4 separate regions of the Homo sapiens genome follow, and regions 1, 2 and 3 are each linked to region 4. Evidence: fine-mapped expression QTL. A gene starts in region 4. Each other region holds a variant in brackets. All regions are shown on one strand. Distances are from middle to middle.

The links. PIP is the estimated chance that this variant, and not a neighbour inherited with it, causes the effect.
Region 1: its variant is the best candidate, but not a certain one, in a credible set for the expression of SNX18 in whole blood (INTERVAL, PIP 0.60).
Region 2: its variant is the best candidate, but not a certain one, in a credible set for the expression of SNX18 in thyroid (GTEx, PIP 0.65).
Region 3: its variant is the best candidate, but not a certain one, in a credible set for the expression of SNX18 in whole blood (TOPMed, PIP 0.72).

The regions. Positions count from the first base shown.
Region 1 is chr5:54,604,690-54,609,840 of GRCh38, reverse strand. It overlaps a transcript of SNX18 not described here. Among named protein-coding and RNA genes, the nearest start is that of SNX18, 90 kb to the right of the region's middle. The variant A/C (reference allele first, on the strand shown) is at 2,990.
Region 2 is chr5:54,587,295-54,592,445 of GRCh38, reverse strand. It overlaps a transcript of SNX18 not described here. Among named protein-coding and RNA genes, the nearest start is that of SNX18, 72 kb to the right of the region's middle. The variant A/G (reference allele first, on the strand shown) is at 3,014.
Region 3 is chr5:54,613,156-54,618,306 of GRCh38, reverse strand. It overlaps a transcript of SNX18 not described here. Among named protein-coding and RNA genes, the nearest start is that of SNX18, 98 kb to the right of the region's middle. The variant C/T (reference allele first, on the strand shown) is at 2,032.
Region 4 is chr5:54,514,692-54,519,842 of GRCh38, reverse strand. It overlaps SNX18 (sorting nexin 18), which reads right to left and starts at 2,084. Exons shown (of 2, transcript NM_001102575.2): 1 at 270-2,084. The coding sequence starts at 1,890. RefSeq lists an enhancer at 232-1,176 and silencers at 1,649-2,208, 2,089-2,330.

The DNA of each region.
Region 1 (5,151 bases), 90 kb before region 4:
CCACCTCCCACCACGCTCCACCTCCAATGTGGGGGATTACATTTCAATATGAGATTTGGGCAGGGACAAACATCCAAACTATATCACCACGGCATGGCAATTTATTGACATATTGGCTCACGTTTGTCTTCCCTATACTTCTTTCTTTTCAATTTCAAGGAGGTAGCCAAATCCTTGGCATTTTTTTTATCTCAGCCCTTTTGCAGGGTGGGACAAATAGAAGGATTTGAGGCTTTTTCAGTTTTTTATGAAAATTAAGCTTTAGGGGGCTGAGGTGGGAGATCACTTGAGGCCAGAAGTTGGAGGCCAGCCTGAGCAACATAGCAAGACTCTGACTCTAAAAATAAGATATTATAAATAAATAAGTAAATAAATAGAAAATGAATACCATCATAGAGATTGCGGATGACGTCCCCAAGGAGAGATAAGATGTGTTTTGGGGACAACAAGAAAGGAAGAGAGATTTTCTTCAGGTGTTAGAAAGCCAAAAGAGAAGGATAAATCATAACCAAGAATGTGGCAGTACCCCCTAGGCTGTACTGCCCACCTCAATAGTTAATATCCATGTGTGGTTTTAAAGTTCTAAATTAATTAAAATTAAATATAATTAAAAATTCAGCTCCTCGGTGGCACTAGCTGCATTTTAAGTGCTCTATAGCCTCATATGTCTAGTGGCTACCATACTGGACAGAGTAGTTATGGAACATTTCCATCATTGCAGAAATTTCTACTGGACTGTGAGAAGGTGTCAAGACCTCAGAGGCTGTGAGGAAACATGGGAGATTAGATGCTCCCAACCTCATCACAGAGTCCTATGCACTAAGAACGGGGAATTAGCAGCTGAGCTGCCCAGCATGAGATATACAGGTTGGGACAATGGACTGGTGCTTTAGTGGAAAACAGTGTGGACCCACAGCTGTAAACTAGAGTGACAGTCTTCCCTGTGCCAGAGTGTTTAATAAGACCTAATGACCTTTACACACTTTGGAGGGCAGGGAGAGACACCAAGGGCTGAGTGTGAATTTCCCACCAGCCTAGGAGGATGGGTACTCAGATGATTTAAAGAAAATAAAGTGATGCACACTTGAATATAGGGAACTAAGATTAATACCTGCTACAGTCGTACACAACTATGCATACACATATACACCCCCACACAGACACACCAGTCATCCTTCCTTCTTCAACTGTTTATTTCAACACTGATTTCATAACACTATTTAAACAGCTCAGGCTATCTCCATATCCCAGTAAGTACTTGTCAGTACACAAACAGGTCACAATCCATTATTTAAAAAGCATGGCGGCTGGGTGTGGTGCCTTATGCCTGTAATTCCAGCACTTTGGGAGGCCAAGGTGGGAGGATTACTTGAGCCCAGGAGTTCAAGACCAGCTTGGGCAACATAGTGAGATCCCATTTCTATTTTTAAATAAGAAAACTTTAAAAATAATACAATAAAATAAAAAATAAAAAGCACAGTTCATATTAGAAAATGGGCAAAAGACATGAAGAGACATTTCACCAAAGAGGCTATACGGATGGCAAATAAGCACATGAAAAGATGTTCAGTACCATTAGCCGTTAGGGAAAGCCAAATTAAAGCCATAATATGACCACACACCTATCAGAAAGGCTAAAGAAAAAGATAGTGACCATATAAAATGCTGATGAGGATGCAGAGAAACTGGATCCCTCAAACATTGCTGATAGGAACACAAAATGGTACAACTACTCTGGAAAATAGTTTGGCAGTCTCTTTAAAAAGCAATTATGTAAGTACCATATGACCTAGCAATTGAACTCCTGGGCATTTAATCACAGGGAAAGGAAAACTTATGTTCACATAAAACCCTGCACATGAAGTTTACAGCAGCTTTATTTTTGTTTGTTTGTTTGTTTGTTTGTTTTGAGACAGTCTTGCTCGGTCACCCAGGCTGGAGTGCAGTGGCATGATCTTGGCTCACTGCAAACTCTGCCTCCCAGGTTCAAGCAATTCTCCTGCCTCAGCCTCCTGAGTAACTGGACCTACAGGCATCCACCACCACGCCCGGTTAATTTTTGTATTTTTTTGTGGAGATGGGGCTTTGCTATGTTGTCCAGGCTGGTCGCGAACTCCCGACATCAAGTGATCCGCCTGCCTCGGCCTCCCAGAGTGCTGAGACTACAGGCATGAGCCACAGTGCCTGGCCCATAGCAGCTTTATTTGTAATAGCTAAAAAGTGGAAAGGCCAGAAATGTCCTTCAACAGGTGAATGGTTAAACAAATTGTGATGCATACCTACCATGGAATACTATACAGGCAACAAATTGGATAAATATCCAAGAATTATGTTATTGTAGCCATTCTGTAGAAATAGGATAAATTCCCACCTAAACTATGGTTCAAATGATGACACCAGATAGACATCGAAAGAGTGTGAAAAGGTTTATTACGCACATAATGAGGTTTTCTGGAGACAGCTGGGAAAGCTTCCCAAACAGGTCCAAAAACAGCGTAAGAGAGCAGGGAAAGAAAACTGACTTGAAGTTTTCTTAGGCGTTGGGGAGTGGGGCTGGGGTGAGGGTTCCTGCACACAGGCGGGGGCCCACATGGTTGGAATCTCAGTGCCAACAGAAGAACCCAGGCTTTCTTATCAGCTTGCCCAGATGTGGGGCAAAATGGGAAATGAGAAGAGTGGGGTATAAAAGCTACTAGCAAACATCAGAAAATGGAGTCAGACTCATTATTATTACCCAGGAACCACACAAAGGCCTTTCTCAAAAGAATGCATACTGTATGCATCCATTTATATAACATTTTTGAAATGACATTTCAAAACTGGAGGACATATTTGTTAATGGTTGCCAGGGTATAGGGATGGGGTGGGTGAGGAAGGTAGGAGTGGTTGTAAATGGGCAAAATAAGGGATCCTTGTGATGTTGGAACTGTCAGTATCTTGACTGTGGTGGTGGATACACAAACCTATACAGGTGATAACATTTTATGGA[A/C]CTGTGCAATTTTCACACATACACACACGTGAGTACAAATAAAGCTGGGAAAATCTGAAAAAGATGGATGGATTGTAGTAATGTCAATCTCCTGGTTGTGATATTATACTAATGTTTTGTAAAATGTTACATTGGGAGAAACTGGGTGAAGAATACACGAGATCTAGCCGTCTGATTTCTTAAAATTGCATATAAACCTAGAATTATCTCCATGAAAATTGCAAATCGAAAAATGCTTAGATCAGAGAGGGAGAGTTCATTCAGATTACAGGACACTCTGGGGTGGGACGAAGAGCAAGAATGAGTGAATGCCTCTGAATTGAGCCAACTGACCCAGTGAACCACCTGGTCTCCCGAAGTCCTCTTCAACAATCCAATGGCCAACCAGAGGTCAGATGTCTTCATTATCATAAAGACCAAAAGTTGGGTAAATGTTTAGAGGGACTAACCTGGAAATACAAAGAAAGGCAAGATAAAATTCAGAGGCAGCCTAATAACTTGAAAACTGATTATTTTTATGATAGATGAATCAATAGCAAAAGAAGATTCATATAAGAATTATCTGATAACCATTTATACAGGGATGTCATTTACAATTCAGTCATTCACAAACTTTTTTAATGAAATGTTCCTTAACAATAGATGAGAGTAGATGTATGAATGGATGGATGTCTGGTGTGTAGCCACAGGCAGCCATCCAAAACCTGAAACGCCTGGAAAATCTATACAAATAGTACATTACACTGCATAATACATCTTTATTTATTGCAATATAAAAGTATGATTTTCAATATTGAATTTTATACTGTGTGTATTTTACCACAATTCAAAGGAAAGGAAGAAATGACTGTTAAAAAGTGGTGACATTTTTTTAAAGTGTCAAAATTAGGATGGGCGTGGTAGCTCACACCCATAATCCAAACGCTTTGGGAGGCAGAGGCAGGAGAATTGCTGGAGCCCAGAAGTTCAAGATTAGCCTGGTCAACAAAGTGATACCCTGTCTCTACAAAAAAAAGTTTTTAGATTTAGCTGGGTGTGTTGGCACATGCCTGTAGTCCTAGCTACTTGAGAGGCTGAGGCAGGAGGATCCCTTGAGCCCAGGAGTTCGAGGCTTCAGTGAGCTGCGATAGTGCCACTGCACTCCAGCCTGGGTGACGGTGCAAGACCCTGCCTCAAAAATAAATAAATAAGTTTCAAAATTGATCATAAAAAATCTCAATAATTTTTATGTTGATTATGTTAAAATAATACTATTCTGGATATCTTGGGTTAAATAAAACATATAATTAAACTTTTTAAAAAACATTGTTTTCAACTAAAAAATTAGTTAAAATTATGTAAAAAAGTTCAGTAATCTGAGCAAAATTTACTCCAAGAAGATGATTACTCTATGGCCCACGTGGTTCCTGGTACGTAACACACTACTGTGATAAGCGTGGCTTTACATTTTCTAAGATCTTCAAATTAAATATTGCTTTTTTTAAAAAAAAGTCTAAACCCCTAACTCTGAGTCTCTGCTGGTACTACTCTGGAACAATTTTGCTAGCTTTCCTCCCCATGAATGTCTATGACTTAAGTCCCAGGTAAAATGTTACCACTATGAATCCATCTAAAATTGCCCAAAACAGGATATATTTCCTCCTTCTCATGTTACTCAACTGCTTAAAATCCCCCAGAGAGTTCCTATTAAGGTAGAATAAAGTCCAGTAGAAGTCAGCCCTCATGCTGACTGGAAAAAGTCTCCTGCTTACATCTTAGATCTTACATTTTGATCACTCACCACCCCTCACACTTCCTCCACCAGAGGAAGACCAGAGGGTCTCCTTTCTGTTCCTCCAATATCCAGCCTGTGTCTACCTTCAGGTATTTGATCTTACAGTTTCATATTCGGGGACTGCTTTTCCTTCTGATTGTGCCTTACCTCTTTCTTATTCTTGACATTCAGATCTCAGCGTGGATGACACTCCTCAGAAAGGCCATCCCTAGACATCCAATCTAAAATCAATATCCAGTCATCCTCTTACCTTACCAGCATGTCATTTTTGGTTTGTCTGTTTATTGTGGCAAAATATACATCACAAATTTTGCCATTTTAACCATTTTTTAAAGTATACAATTCGGTGACATTAAGCATATTTACAATGTTGCACAACCATCACTAC
Region 2 (5,151 bases), 73 kb before region 4:
CACATTCAGGGAAGCCATGTGTCCACAAATGGAGAGCAATTTGTTGTCCATGGGCTTTGATTTCACAAGTGCTAGGAGTTAGTTACTTCTAGAAGAATTCCTGGCACCTCTGTAACACCCATCTGAGAAGAGTGTCGTGAGGTGGAGGCAGCTCAGGTGAGATGAAGAAAAGAAGGGAAGGTTGATTCTGGAGTTGTGGAGGCCAAATTCGGCAGATCTCACATGAAGTGTCCCAGGTCACCATGTGTGGGAAGGAAGTGGGAGGCGAGGGTATAGTAAAGGGGCAGATGAAGAAAAGCAATAGCTCCCCTCTGGCACATTTCCCAAGTGAAGCCTTTTGAACAATTTTGAAAGTGATATGTTGCCATCACATTTGTTAAAGACCATAAGAGCCACTAGCCTGACTTTTGCTTTCACAGGGCACCTTATGATTAATAAACAATTGAAATATGGACAGAGTAAGCAAAGTACAGAAGGTAGTTATATCAGCCAGGATAGGCCAAGATATTTGTTAGCAACAAACAATCTCCAAAACTCGTAGTGGCTTAAAACAACAAATATTTATTTCTTGCACATGCAAAGCTCATTGGGGGTCAGGGTGACTCTCCTCAGGTGACAGCTCAATGATCCAGGATTCTTTGCTCTTGTGGCACCTCTGTCTAAAAACACATTTGTATGCACTGCTCTGACAACTGTGACTGGGGCAAAGTGTGGAAGCTCTTAATTCTTATGCCAATGCAAGTCACATGGTTACACCTAACTTCGAAAGGGCAGAAAAGATATTTCTCTTTCTACTAGGAGGTAAAGGAGAACATTAGTGACATCTACCACAGTAGTCAAAGGGGGACATCATTTTGAGTGCTCACAGTGCCACCAACAAATGGTGCAAGCTTTCCTGCCCACCTTCCCTTGCATGGCTCTGTGCTCAGCACTTTGCAGCCAAAGGTCCAAGACAGGCTGAGCATGGTGGCTCACACCTGTAATCCCAGCACTTTGGGAGGCCAAGGCAGGAGGATTGTTTGGGCCAAGGAGTTCGAGACCAGCCTGGGCAATATAGCAAGACCCCATTGCTACAAAAAGTAATAATACAATTTAAAAATTAGCCAGGAGATGTACAGCAGGCCTGTAGTCCCAGCTACTCTGGGGGCTGAGGTGGGAAGATTGCTTGAACCCAGGAGGTTGAGGCTGTAATGAACTATGATCACACCACTGCACTCTAGCCTGGCTGACAGAACAAAAGCGTGTCTCAAAAAAACAAAACAAAACAAAAAAAAAACCCAAAAAACAAAAAAGCAAGGTCTGGGTCAAATCTCAGAATGTGGTCAAGAGTGGTACCTTTAGGTGTTTATTCCTGTAATTTATGGAAGCTGACAGTGCTTCTGAGACAGGGAGAGAGATGAGGACATCAGGGGAAGGAAGAAAAAAGGAGAAGTGAGGGGGGATGGGGAGGATGAGCTGAACTTCACTTACTTTACTCTGTTTCTTTAGCTTTCACTAAGCCATGCCAGTGAGGGGAGAATTCATATCAAATGAACATTTACTCATCATGCACCAAGTGGCGAGCGTCAGGCAGGAGATAACCATGCCATGCTTCCTGCCCTCATGGAGCTCAGGATCTAGGGAGGAAGGGAGACCAGTAAGCAAGCAACGGATTACACACTAGCCGTGTGGACAGGATGCCGAAGCAGGGGACTGTCTGAGAAAAAAGGGCTTGGGTTTGAAACATGTCATCATACTTTTTTTCAAAAATGTATTTTCCTTCCCATTTAATGTCTGCTTAGTTGGATATCTAAATAGGTTTGCATTTTTGGAATAAAGACCAAAGATTGGGGTTGGGGTTGGGGAGAGCTAGTCAGGTATAAGTAGGGGGTCACTGACCAGGGCGAAATCCACATCACCTGCACTAGCTACACTCCTGCCAGTAGCTGTCAGATCAAAAGCAATGATCACATGGATCTGGCTTAGGGAGACAGGCCTTATCTGTTGCAGTTTCTGCTCAAAAGAAACCAATAATCTGACTTAGGCTTTAACAAAGAATGGCACTAAAACAAAAGGGGCTTAGGGAAGTGATTCAGAGTAGGATTCTCAACTATTTCAGTTACTAGAAATGCCCCCCGTCTAGAACTACATAAATCAAACACCCTCTGCTGGACTCAACTCCTCACAGAAGCTGACACATCTGACAGCATTGGAAATACTCCTTTTGGCCTTACTAGCCAGCATCAGAGGGAATGGATTGCTATCTCATTTGAATTTCTAACTACTGAAACATATTGGAAGAAGTCAACTGGAAGAGGCCATGTCTACTTTACCTCAAGAGGAAAGTGGCTACAGTTTGCCTTAAGACTTGGAGAGGGCTGGGTGCAGTGGCTCACGCCTATAATACCAGCACTGTGGGAGGTCCAGACAGGAGGATGGCTTGAGGCTAGGAGTTTGAGACCAGCCTGAGCAACATAGTAAATGCACATCTCCACAAAGAATTTTAAAAATTAGCTGGTCATGGTTGTGTGTGCCTGTAGTCCCAGCTACTCGGGAGGCTGAGGTGGGAGAATGATCTCGCCACTGCATTCCAGCTTAGTTGAGAGAGCAAGACTCTGTCTCAAACAAAGACGTGGAGAGAAAACTTCTCTGTAGGAGTTAGAAGAGAATCAATATCACAGGGCCCTGGTTTCCTCTAGTTTTGCAGAATCCATTGACTGGGCATTTCCCCCTCTGGCCAGTAGAAGTAATATTAGAGCAGCATCTTCACTTTCAAAGGTCAGCTTTGGGAAGGAAACGACTTCTCTTCCAAGCTCACGGCCTGTTGGGCACCCCCATAGAGTTTGGCTTTAGGTGCTTGCCGAAGGTTAAATGATTTTCATACCTGACTAATTCTTTGTACTTCAAATTCTTTCTTCATTTTGAAATATACCTCTTAAGTGGTTTAGAGGACTCAACCTATCGTGCAACCAAAACTTTGCTTTTTACCCCACTTCTTTAATGTTCCCTGAAGGGGAATGGAATTTTTTCCCTT[A/G]AGTTAAGAAGGCATATGTGTGGTGAGGGGAGAAAAGCTGGCCCTCGTGCCTCAGGGTTTGCCACACAAGCAAATATAGCTCCTTCAACAAGGCACAGCTTGGGCAGAGACACAGGGGTCTCTGGAAGGGAAAGGCCACAGGGATCATGGAGGGCAGCTGCCCTGAGAGCCGGCAGCTAGTGAAATGGAACAAATTACTAGGCAGAAGGAAAGAAATGAGAGGAAAAGGGATGCAACTTAGAGGACTGGCCTGGGGGAACAGAAGGTGACCGCAGGGCAGGGGGTTGGGGGTGTCAATGTATATGTGCAACTTTCAGGTTAAACTGCCTAGTCATATTTTCACTTTTGTCTTAATAGTTTCAACCTTCTATAAGATAAGATTAGTGTGCTCTTAAAGCTCTGAAATCATAGTGGTTTAAAGACAATAGAAGTTTATTTTTCTCTTATATAAACAGTCCAGAGCTAGTATAGTTGCTCCACAGACATGGTTCCCAAACTATGCACCCAGGCACCACAGGATACCATGGTAAATTTTTCTTATTCAAAGAAAATTCAGTGATACCTTGACATTTGTCATATTACTAGCTTGAGGTAGTTCAGAGTTCAAACCTCAGATCTTGTTACATTCTCTTTGATGATATCATACCTTTGCAAAGCTGGGTTTTCAGTGGCTGGTCTGATAAAATGCAAGTAAATGACAGTACTGTTACCCAATGTGATCCCAAGGTTTGAGAAGGTGTACAGTGCTCAACAGGTGCACGCATCCCACTAGTAAGTGATTGTGGTTATTTAAGAACAGAAATAAGAGCTGGGTGCGGTGGCTCACGCCTGTAATCCCAGCACTTTGGGAGGCTGAGGTGGGTGGATCATGAGGTCAGGAGATCGAGACCATCCTGGCTAACATGGTGAAACCCCATCTCTACTAAAAATACAAAAAATTAGTTAGGCGTGGTGGTGGGTGCCTGTGGTCCCAGCTGCTCGGGAGGCTGAGGCAGGAGAATGGTGTGAACCTGGGAGGCAGAGCTTGCAGTGAGCTGAGATCACGCCACTGCACTCCAGCCTGGGTGAAAGTGAGAGACTCCGTCTCAAAAAAAAAAAAAAAAAAAAAAAAAAAAAAAAAAAAAAAGAATAGAAATAACAGTATTTTTTCTTTCAATGTATTTGAATTATTTTTTTTTCAAATGACTTCTAAGTTGTTAGGACATAGCAAATTGCTTAGATACAACTGCCTAGAAACAGAATTTTTAGGCATTCTTTTGGCCTAGAGTCAATATGAAAAAATTATGGCGACACTATACTATGAAACGAGAGTGTTTGGGAACTTCTGCCACTGAGTACTGGTGTCAGAAATCCAGATTTCCTTGATTGGGTTGCTTGGATTCCCTAGAAGATTGGCTTCTTCCGCAACTTGTCCTCCTTCTATGAAAGGAGAAAGGGCAAAAGGGGTGTACACCTTCCTCTCATGGACACAACCTGGCAGATGGCCTCATCACATTCGTTCACAATCCATTGTCCAGGATGTCATCTTATGCCCACATCTAACTGCAAGGGAAGCACAGACAGTCACACTGTATCCTTGATGGCCACGTGCCTTAAAAAATATTGGGGATTTTGGTGCTGTGCACAAAAGTGAAAGAATGGAAATAGGTGACCACTTGTAGTCTCTACCACAGACCATCTGAATTGAAAGCAATGGTGCTGTACCCCTCCACTCTTAATGAATGGTGGTGTTTTCAACATCATATTAACTGCCAAGTGAACTAAAGAAGAGCAGCAGGCTCTGAGAGCATTGCAGGGTTCAGTAGAAGGGATTGGAACACTGGCAGCACCAACAATGAGTGCATGCCGTGTGCAGGTGCAAGTAATTGGGCACCACGGAGAGAAAGGACATTAAGGAGTTTTTTGCTTTTGGAAGTTATTGACAAGTTTTTAGTCTATAGAGATGAAAACATTAATTCACCTTTGGAGCACAGTCCTTTATTCTGGTAAGAGCAATTCTCTTTTCCAGCAGAAGACGCAATAGATTATGTCTTTGCCTTGGCCAGGGACTATTATTTATATACTGTTGATGTATATAGTACTTAATAGGATATAAATAACCACTTGTTTACAGAAAACCACTTGTTTACATACCAACC
Region 3 (5,151 bases), 98 kb before region 4:
AAAAGACAGAGGTTTAATTGACTCACAGTTTCGCATGGCCTGGGAGGCCTCAAGAAACTTACAATCATAGCAGAAGGGGAAGCAAACACATCCTTCTTCACATGGCGGCAGGCGAGAGAAGTGCCAAGCAAAGGGGGAAAAGCCTTGCAAAACCATCAGATCTCATGAGAACTCACTATCATGAGAACAGCAGCATGTGGGTAATGGCCCCTGTGATTCAATTACCTCCTACTGGGTCCCTCCCATGACATGTGGGGATTATGGAAACTACAATTCAAGATGAGATTTGGATGGGGACACAACCAAACTATGTCACCCTGGAATGCTGTTCCCCTTCCTCCATCATAATCCTCGCATCCCCCAATTTAGACCTTACCTCTTCCAGCATTTTCTCCATGGTTGACCTTACCCAAAGATAGGACTATTAACAGATTAGTCAATGGAGAATGAGCATGGTGGCTAATTCCTGTAATCCCAGCACTTGGAGAGGCCGAGGCAGGAGGAATTGCTTGAAGCCAGGAGTTGGAGACCAGGCTGGGCAACATAGCGAGACATCTGTCTCTATTTTAAAAAAAAGAAAAAGAGAGAGGGGAAAAAAGAGAGATTCATCAACAGAGACATGAACAAATCCTTTCCAGAACTTCACTCAGTGCTATAATTATCTTCTTTGTGGTGTATCTCCTAATCTACAACTTGTGTTTCTTGAGGGTCAAAACCATATTTTCTGTCTCTTTAGCACGCCTCTCTCCATCCCTCCCACAGTCTATTTCAATTCTCTGTTGAACACAGGACATCTTTAGTAATGCCACTGACAGACAAGGAGAATCTGAAAACTGAAAATTTTGAGAAGTTTTACTTGGGAGGGGGAAGTACACCATTTCTACCTTGCTTTCTAAGGAAATATTTTCTATAGAGTAGTAAAAAGCATGTTTTCACTTGTTGTTTTCCTGTGGAACCAAACAGGAGCTATAAGAACTACTAGTGGACAGGTTTATTTGCACTCAATATTCTGTTCTGTTCTGTTCTGCTATGCTTTTATGAATTTTAAAGGCAAGGAATTGTTCAGGTCAGGAATTCATCTGTCAAAATGCTTTATGCTGGAGCCCATGGAAAGGAGAGGCCTTGCGGCTTCACTGGTGAATTAACTGAGAGTTGGAACACTGCTGGTGTGTTTTGCTTTACCACTGACTTTCTTTGAAGGGGCCTTTGACGAAGTTGTTTACTCTCATTCATTGCCTCAGTGTTTATATCTCAAAATCAAGAGACCTCCTTCATGTCGAAGGAACTAGGGGAAGAAAGTTAAGTCTGTGACTCAGAGATAAAAACCAGCTTGATGTGATTGCAGGGGCCCTGGAGAGACTTCCCTGTCCCCAAATATCTCCCATTGGCTTGTCCCAGCACAGGAAAAGAAACCCCACAGTTACCTTGCATCTGAGTTTAGGCAGTGAGCACCTGGTTAAAACACAGGCAAGTTATGAAGGGAGATCTGACATTGTGTTTGCTTTTATTCTAAGATGCACATTTTTTTTTTCTTTTTTGAGATGGAGTCTTGCTCTGTCATCCAGGCTGGAGTGCAGTGGCATGATCTTGGCTTACTGCCATATCGGCCTCCTGGATTCAAGAGATTCTCGTGCCTCAGCCTCCCTAGTAGCTGAGATTACAGGCGCCTGCCACTTCGCCTGGCTAATTTTTTGTATTTTTAGTAGACACAGGGTTTCACCATATTGGCCAGTCTCGAACTCCTGACCTCAGGTGATCCACCTGCCTCAGCCACCCAAAGTGATGGGATTACAGGTGTGAGCCACCGTGCCTGGCCAAGATGCACATTTCTTTAATCTTTTAATACTTTTGAAATTGGGATGTGGTTTTACAATCAGAGTGAATAGTTAATGTAATAATGCATAGTCTATTTCTCCTGAAGAAGTAAGTTGTTATTAAATAGATAAGAACCACCTGGAAAATAGGGAAGCAGTATGGACACACTCCAGTGAGTGGGTGTTGAAAACTGACCCGAGCCAGATAGGTCATGTG[C/T]GGATGATTGCAACCTAGGAGTTGTTAAGTCAGAACTGCTAGCTATTCTTCTCCACAAATGTTACACAATCATGAACAAAGCAAGCCACTGGCCAAATTCTGCTGCATACACAGACGCTTGTTAACTAAATATTTGTTAGTGAGCAAGCAAAAAAGTGGTTCATATAATCTTCCTTGCAAAGTTCTCTAAGACAATTTCTGGGATTCCAGAGGCAGAATAATGCTGCCAGTTTAGCCAGCATTGAGCAACCAGAATCTCCCACAGTTTATGGCTAGGCCCAAGACCAGGTAAAGGCATCATTCTAAGAGTGCTGGATATTTTATTCATGCAAGAGTGGAGAGTCTCTAAGCTCTTTTAACTAGTCTACTTATCTTTATATTCACCAAACAGATCCCATTTCTAACTTTCATCATGTTAATCAACATGCCACTAATTTCACCTGTAAGAAACAATTCTGACATGAACTGTGCTAATTGGCAAAGCACCTGTTATTGAAGATACAAATAACATGTGCTTTGTCTGAGGATCATGCACATTTTTTTCCTCCAGAGCTACCCTATTAACTGAAGGATTGTGCACTCTTGTAGAGTCTAGAAACATTTGGTTAAAGCCCAAACTAGGTGGCATACCCAAGATAGGCACTGTATTTTCAGAAGCATTTAAAAATCTTAAGATGCATCAGACTGAAACACACATTGTGATACAATGCAAAGATATCGCTAAGAGAAATAGGCAGTGGGGTTTGAGAGCATGAAAGCAGTGACTAAGTCTGTCTATCAGACTGGGAAGTGAGGGGGCAAGGGTAGAACATCCTTACAGAGGAGATGACCCAAGCTGGATTTTTAAAAGAGAGTAGGAATGCATGAGGCAGACTTGGGGTACACCCAGCAAAGGGAAGCAGTAGGGGCACAAGCCCAGAGGATGAGAAGCTAGTCTAGGGTGGGTAGACTACAGGCATGTGAGAGAGGAGACAGGCTAGAATTGTAGCTGGGAACTAGACAGAACCTTCTAGATCATGCTCAAGAATTTTCTCTTTACCTGGTAGACATCTGGAAGTCGAGAGACAAAAATATTTTACCTACTACAATTTTGGCTTGGAACATGAATGATCGTATTGTTAGACCAAAATGGATCCCACAAGGGTCAGGCTTCCTCCCAGACCTCTCTAACTGAAGCTCCAGAGCCCTGAACATCCCCTCCATCTATAATGTTTTTTCCATAAAAACCAAAGCAGAAGGAGTATGTTTCCTAGAGTCATGTACTGGTTGGGTGAGTTGGACAAGTTTCTTAATCTCTCTGATCCTCAATGTCCTCATCTGTAAAATGTGAATAATTATACCTTTTTCTTAGGGTGTTGTTAAGAAGTTTAAGTTAGTGTGTACGACAGTTTAAGTTAGTGCTTAAGACAGTACCTGGAATAGAATACTCAACTAATTTTATTTTTAGTGTCTATGTCTTTTAAATATTTTTAAAAGATTTAATCACCCAGGCTTGACTGATGTGATCTTGGCTCACTGCAACTTCCACCTCCTGAGCTCAAGTGATCCTCCCACCTCAGCCTCCAGAGTGAGTATCTGGGACTATAGGCACACACCACCACGACTGGCTAATTTTTATTTCTTTATTTTTTTGTAGAGATGGGGTTTTGCCATGTTGCCCAGGCTGATCTTGAACTCTTGAGCTCAAGCAATTTACCTGTCTCAGCCTCCCAAAGTGGTGGGATTACAGTCATGAGCCACTGCACCTGGCCCTTAAATCTTTCTCATTATTTTTCCTTGCTTATGAATTCTTAGAAAGAACATGTATATTATACAAGTAGTACTTTATCTCACTATAATTACAGATTACTAATCACTGATCTTGTTCCATAAATCTTACTCTAAACTGTTTTAAAATCTAGAAGTTTAGCTCTGAGGCTTCTGAGCCTAATAAAACCCCACAAACCCCTCTTATCTGCCTGCTGGTCTTATCAGGGAGATGCTCTTTTTGTTTCCAGCAGGGCCTAGTTTTCCATTTCTAGACCCAGAACCAACAACAGAATTGCAGATTCCAGCTCCAAAGTTTTTTCTCCTCCCTAAGTCTTTGAGAACCATGATGGCCAATGGGCTGGCAGGACTGCTTTCCGTTATCTTTATCAAAACATTTTAACTTCAATGCCCTTGGCAACTTTTGTTCAGGAGAAACATTTCTTTTGCTAATGAAGAACATGCTCAAAATTATCCCAACCATATTCTTATCTCATGCAGCCCTTCACCTCAGAACACCAAACTTGGGTTCTTAAAAGAGTGCAGTGGCTCACGCCTATAATCCCAGCACTTTTGAGAGGCCGAGGCAGGCAGATCACCTGAGGTCGGGAGTTCGAGACCAACCTGACCAACATGGAGAAACCCCATCTCTACTGAAAATACAAAATTAGGGCATGGTGGCACATGCCTATAATCCCAGCTACTCGGGAGGCTGAGGCAGGAGAATCACTTGAACCCAGGAGGCGGAGGTTGCAGTGAGCCGAGATCGCACCATTGTACTCCAGCCTGGGCAACAAGAGCAAAACTCCGTCTCAAAAAAACAAACAACAAAAAAAGAGGGCCTTAGCCTTTTACTGATTGATTAAAACAAGAAGTTCACACTTTCATCTGGGACAACAAACTATAGCCACCAGCATTTTGAATCAAATTTAAATTCCTGCTTGGGTTTGAATGTGTCCTCCAAAGTTCTTGTGTTGGAAACATCCCCAATGCAACAGCACTGAGAGGTGAGACCTTTAAGAGATGAGTAGGTCATGAGGGTGAAGAGGCAGAGCCCTCCTGGATGGATTAAGGCCTGTATTGCAGGAGTGGCTTCCGGATAAAAGCATGAGTTCAGCCCCTTCCCTCTTTCTCTCATGTGCGTGATCTCTTGACCTTCTGCCTTCCTTCATGGGATGATGCACCGAGAAGCCCTTGCCAGATGCCAGCCCTTCAACCTTGAACGTCCCAATCTTTAGAACTGTAAGAAATAAATCTCTGTTCTTATAAATTACGTAGTTTCAGGAATTCTGTTATAGAAGCATAAAACGAACTAAGATAATCCCTATAGGCAGAGTTTTTGCTGCTACCCAAGTTGCCGTCAGCCCAGTATTT
Region 4 (5,151 bases):
ACTCTAAAATGATAGCACTGTCATCAAAGGTACTCTTTGAACCTTCGAGAAAGAGTACTCATTCCCTAATGCAAGATACTCGAGGAGGAAGCTGCCTGTCGAGCAATCCAACTTACACTCTAGGGAAAAGACCCAGGCGTCCACGTCTCTGCTCGCTTCCTCACCTGTAGAATATGATTCTGAAACCCACAGTGGTACTGCTGTCAAAGTCGCCCCTTTCAGCCTGCACAATACACTCCATATCACCTGCTCTAAGGGCCAGGCTTTACCTTTCTGAACGTGGATGATGTCCGGGAAGTTAGCCAGATGCCCCTGATACAGCGCTAATAGGTCCATGACGGGATCCAGGTCCTGCCTGGGCTGCTCCGCGAAGAGCTCGCCAATGGCGTCATAGGCATCTCCGGTGAAGGCGATAGCCTGGTTCAGGCCCACCGAGAAGGCCTGCTGGTCCAGCTCAAAGGCCTGGCTGAGGCCGCGGAAGGACTGGCCCACCTTCTGATACTCCTTTTTGAAGCCGGTCACCTGCTTGCGCGCGAACTCGTTGGCCGTGTGGTTGAGCTGCAGCGCGCTGTCGTCCATCTTCTTGGTGAAGCACTTGAAGCCGTCGATCTTGCTCTCCACCTCCTGCAGGTCAAGGGCAGCGGCGGGGGGCGTGCTAAGGGTCAGGAAGAAGTTGGCGCCCACCATCTCGTCCTTCTCGGCCTTCCTCTTGCCCTGCTTCCAGGCTTTCTCGTCGGTGCTGCTGGGGCACGTCAGGAAGTGCTGGAAGACGTCGCACTGCGCCAGCACTGGGTGGCTGGCCATGTGGTTCATCCACCAGATCAGGCCCTTCCTGCGCTTAGAGATGAAGTCCTCCTCGAAGCGGCCGGTGGCCTGCTTCTCGGGCAGGTGGGGCACGGAGATGACCGGGAACTTCTCCGCCAGGCGCGCGTACAGCCAGTCGAAGTGCTTGTAGCGCCGATGCACCGGCACCTGCGTGTGCGTGGGCACCAGCTTGTAGGAGATGTAGCTCTTCATGCCCTTGAACTTGGTCTGCTTGGTGGGGTCGTCGATGGTGCACTGGAACGGGTAGGGGTTCTCCTGCCACTCGGGGCCATAGGGCCCCAGCACCACGCACAGCTTGTCCCCGTCCTTCACGAAGCCTGACGCCTCCCCCAGCACGAAGGCCTCCCCGCCGGACTTGACGAAGGTGGAGAAGCGATTGAGGTTGCGGCTCACGGTGGCCGAGCTCTTGGGCCCCGACGGGTGGTGCTGCGGGGGGACCGAGCCGCCGCGGGAACCCAGGGACAGGTCGGAGCGCGTGGACAGGCGGTAGCGGCCGGCTGCGCCCACACCCGCCGAAGACGAGCCGTCGAGGTCCGGGTATGCTCCGCTGCCCAGAGCGCCCGGCTCGTCCGCCACCGTGGAGCTGTCGTCCCACTCGTCGTCCCAGTCATCATCGCTGCCTTGGCTGGCCTGGTAGCCGCCGTAGAGCTGCTGAGGCGACGGCTGCAGGGCGCCCCCGCCGTACGGGAAGCCCGCGCCGGGCGGCTGGAAGGTGCTCGGAGGCGGCGCCTGCTGTGGCTGCAGCAGCGCCTGGAAGGCGTCAGGCGGCGGCTTGAAGGAGGCGGGGGGCGCGACAGGCAGGGGCTCGAAGCCCCCGGGGGGCACATTGGCGTAGCGGGCCGGGGCGCCCGGGCCGCCGTCTCCCGCCGGGCCAGGCTCGGGGGCGCGGATCACCTGCACATAGGAGGCCGGGAAGAGGCCGCGGTCGCCGCGGCTGTTGACCCCCTCGAGCCAGCCCTCGATGTCCTGCTCGCTGCACAGGCTCAGCACCTCGTGCTCTCGCAGCGAGATCTCTCCTGGGTTCTCCGACCTGAAGTCGTACAGCGCCCGGGCGCGCAGCGCCATGGTCCCGGCGCCCCGACTGGCGGTCCCGACTCCCGGCGTCCCGAGCCGAGGCCCACCTGAGGGGCCCGCGGTACTGCTCGAGCCCTGGCGCGCGGACTGGAGCCCCGAAGGCGGCAAACCCACGCTGCCCGGACCAGCCGGTCGCGCCCTCCGCGCGGCTCCGCTCGCAGCGCCTCCACTTCGCAGCGCCGACTGCCGCGCTGGGCCGCCGCAGCCGCCGCCGGTCGGGGGCGGGGCCCGCGGCCTCCCACGTCTCCAGCTGCGCTAATCCACGGCCGAGAGCCCCTTGCCAGGCGAGAGCAAGCGATGGCCGAGCCGCCGAGCCCACCGCCCGCGTCGGCTTTGCGGCGGCCACTGCCCTCTAGTGGCCGGTGCCGCGAAGCCGGGCGCCGTAGTGAGCGCGGCTGAAGGAGGTTTCTACTCCGAAGTGAATTATCTGAGATTTCTTTAGGCTTTTAAGTTAAACATTCTCTAGAAAGTAAGTTAGCATTTGCATGCCTGATAAACGTTCCCACTCTGAGCGCTCAGTGAATGCTCCTAGAATGGCAACCCAGTCATGTAATAAAGCATTTTGCAATGCGAATTAGTGATTGCACTAAGAAAACAGGATGCCTCTGCGGAGGAGCTGTTCACCTACAGAGCAGGCTCCCTTCCCTCTTCTGCTCAAGGAGAGGAGATTGGCAAGAACAAAGTAAGGGCCAGGGAAGGTGCTGTGATTGACAAAATTAGAAGCAAAGGATCATGTAGAGAGGGAGGAGCTGGAGAGTTTCCAGTACAATAAATGCTCACACATTTATTACATGCATGTGTCGCCTATCCTCCCATAGATATATGTAGTGCGGTGAATGAGAGCTCAAACTTCGGAGCCAGGCTTCTGAATTTCAATCTGTGTTCTGACACTACCTAGCTGTATGACCTGGAACAAGGCACTTATATCGTACCTACCTCCGGGGGTTGTTGTGGGGATTCCATCATAAAGTAATCCCTATTTTACAGATGAGGAAAGTGAAACAATATCTGGCAGGGTAAGCAGATTTGAAGGGTTTGTTGCTGCTTTTGCTGCTGTTACTGTTATTTGGGGGAAGCAAAATCCCTGGCCTCTTTCACAAAGGGAATAGGGGTACTAAACTAACAATTGCAGGGTACATGCACCAGGAAGCGTCCCAATGTTCACATTGCCACTCCTAGTAAGAGGTCAGTGACCATCCATCCATCTGTTGTCTCTATGTCTCACTATATTTATATTATTTTTAAGATAAATAGAACAAAAATCACTTCCTGAAATAATCAGCTCCAATCTATCGTTGCCTTGTTTCCTATCTTCCTTTCCTTCAGTGTATAATTTGCCCAAAGCTTTTTCTTCTCTTAATCCCCTCTTATTAAGTCTAGCCTAATTATTCCTTTGAAGACACTTCTAATTGAGGTTCTGCATTCATGTGTCATTAATTTCAGCCTGTCCTCTGACCCTTTTCAAGGAAACCTGGGAAACGGGCCAGAAGAGTGTACAATTATTCTAAGGGCTGTGGTATTGTAAGCATCTTGCACAAAAACACAAACCCACTATACCAGAATCACTCCCACAGTGTTTATCCTAATGCAAAACCTTAATTCAATTCAGTAAGCATATTCTAAATTACATTTTTAGCTGAAAATTCTGGGTTTTGACTATTCTCACAGTAAGCAACAGGGATCATTGAATTTCAATGCCAACATTTCATGTGGTCAGAAACATGAAGTCCACATTAACTAAACCTCTAGAATATGACTCATTTTACTTCTGAAAAGCTAACCTAGAATATGTAAGATAAATAAATTTAGTTTCGCCCCTTCTGTTCGTTTAGTAGTTACTTTTTAGATTAGAGTTAAGTACAGTAACTTTGGGCTTATTTCAGGTGTGAAAATTCCAGGAGTTTAAGGTGATGATTTTTTACAGACTGGTTGAGCTACTCTGTAGAAATGGTGGTTGAGGAATTATTGGGTGTCCAAGGTTGTTTGTAGCACTGGGGCATGGGCGTCTGCAGGTGCTTACTTTGTAGGAGTCCAGTGGGAGGCCTCTGTGCTTGCCGCGCATCAGGCTTCCAGAAGGATGAGGACAGGCTGTCATGATGTTTGGCCCTATGGCCACTAGTGGCAGGAAAACCCCTACCTCTAGAGGGTCTTAGATATGTAGAAAATTGTGCTCCAGTATTAACAACCTATAACTGTTCACTCAGGGAAATAGATACAGTAACACATTTTGTAAAGATTTCTCTAGAAAATGGAGCATATTATTCACAGTTTAGTTTACACAATCATTATAACCACCCATATGCTTCTGTAAAGTTTTTAGGGGACACTAAATGACCCCAAACAATTGCATTTTCTTACTTCCTCCCTTGGCCTGAGAGGCCTTAGATAGCCTGGCCCTTGGCTATCTTTCCAGCCCCCTTTTCCACTGAAAGAAGCCACAGTGGTTGCTTTGCTATTTTTGGGACAAGTCAAGCACGTTTCTTGCTGAAGTTTTTGCCTTCGCTTTTCTCTCTCCCTGGAGCCCTCTTCCCCGGGAGATCCACCATGCCACATCATCGCTTCATTCGGTCAGAACCATGGGGCTTTCCATCCCTCCTTTCTTCTCCTTCCTTGGAGATACCGGAAGACAGAGGGAGCCTGGGTCCCTGAGTCACCGACCCCAATCATACTTTGTGAGAGAAAAATCCTTTGTCCGACTAAGCCACTGAAATTTCAGAGATTGCTGAGGCAGCTGGTACTAATTATGCTAATATAATCTCCCTCCCTCCCTCCCATCCCCTGTCCATCCCACAGTCTCACTTTTCTTTGTAGCAACTATGACCTAAGATAAACACGTCTATACATTAACGGCCTCCCCTATTACAACATAAACCTTTTCAGGGCAATGAGGTTTTCTGAGCACTGAGGATATAGCAATGAACAAAACAGACATGTTAGGCAACCAGTTAGTATTTGTTAGATGAATGAAAGAATGTCCACTTACATCCTCCCTAGATGAAGTCAGCTCTCTCCAGTAGCTCTTATTGTGTCTGGGTCAGCTTGCCTGGTGCCCTCTGCCACCCAGCTGTAACTGTTTCTAAGGCAGCTAAGTAACACTCCTCTTTAAATCAACAACGTTAAAGGTAACACAACCACCCAGAACACCACTGCAAATTTTCAGATTGTTAGAAATTTCACTATTACAGAGTGGGTCATTATTAAAATTAACACTATATTTTACTTGAAAACACTCATGTAATGCATCAAGCATTA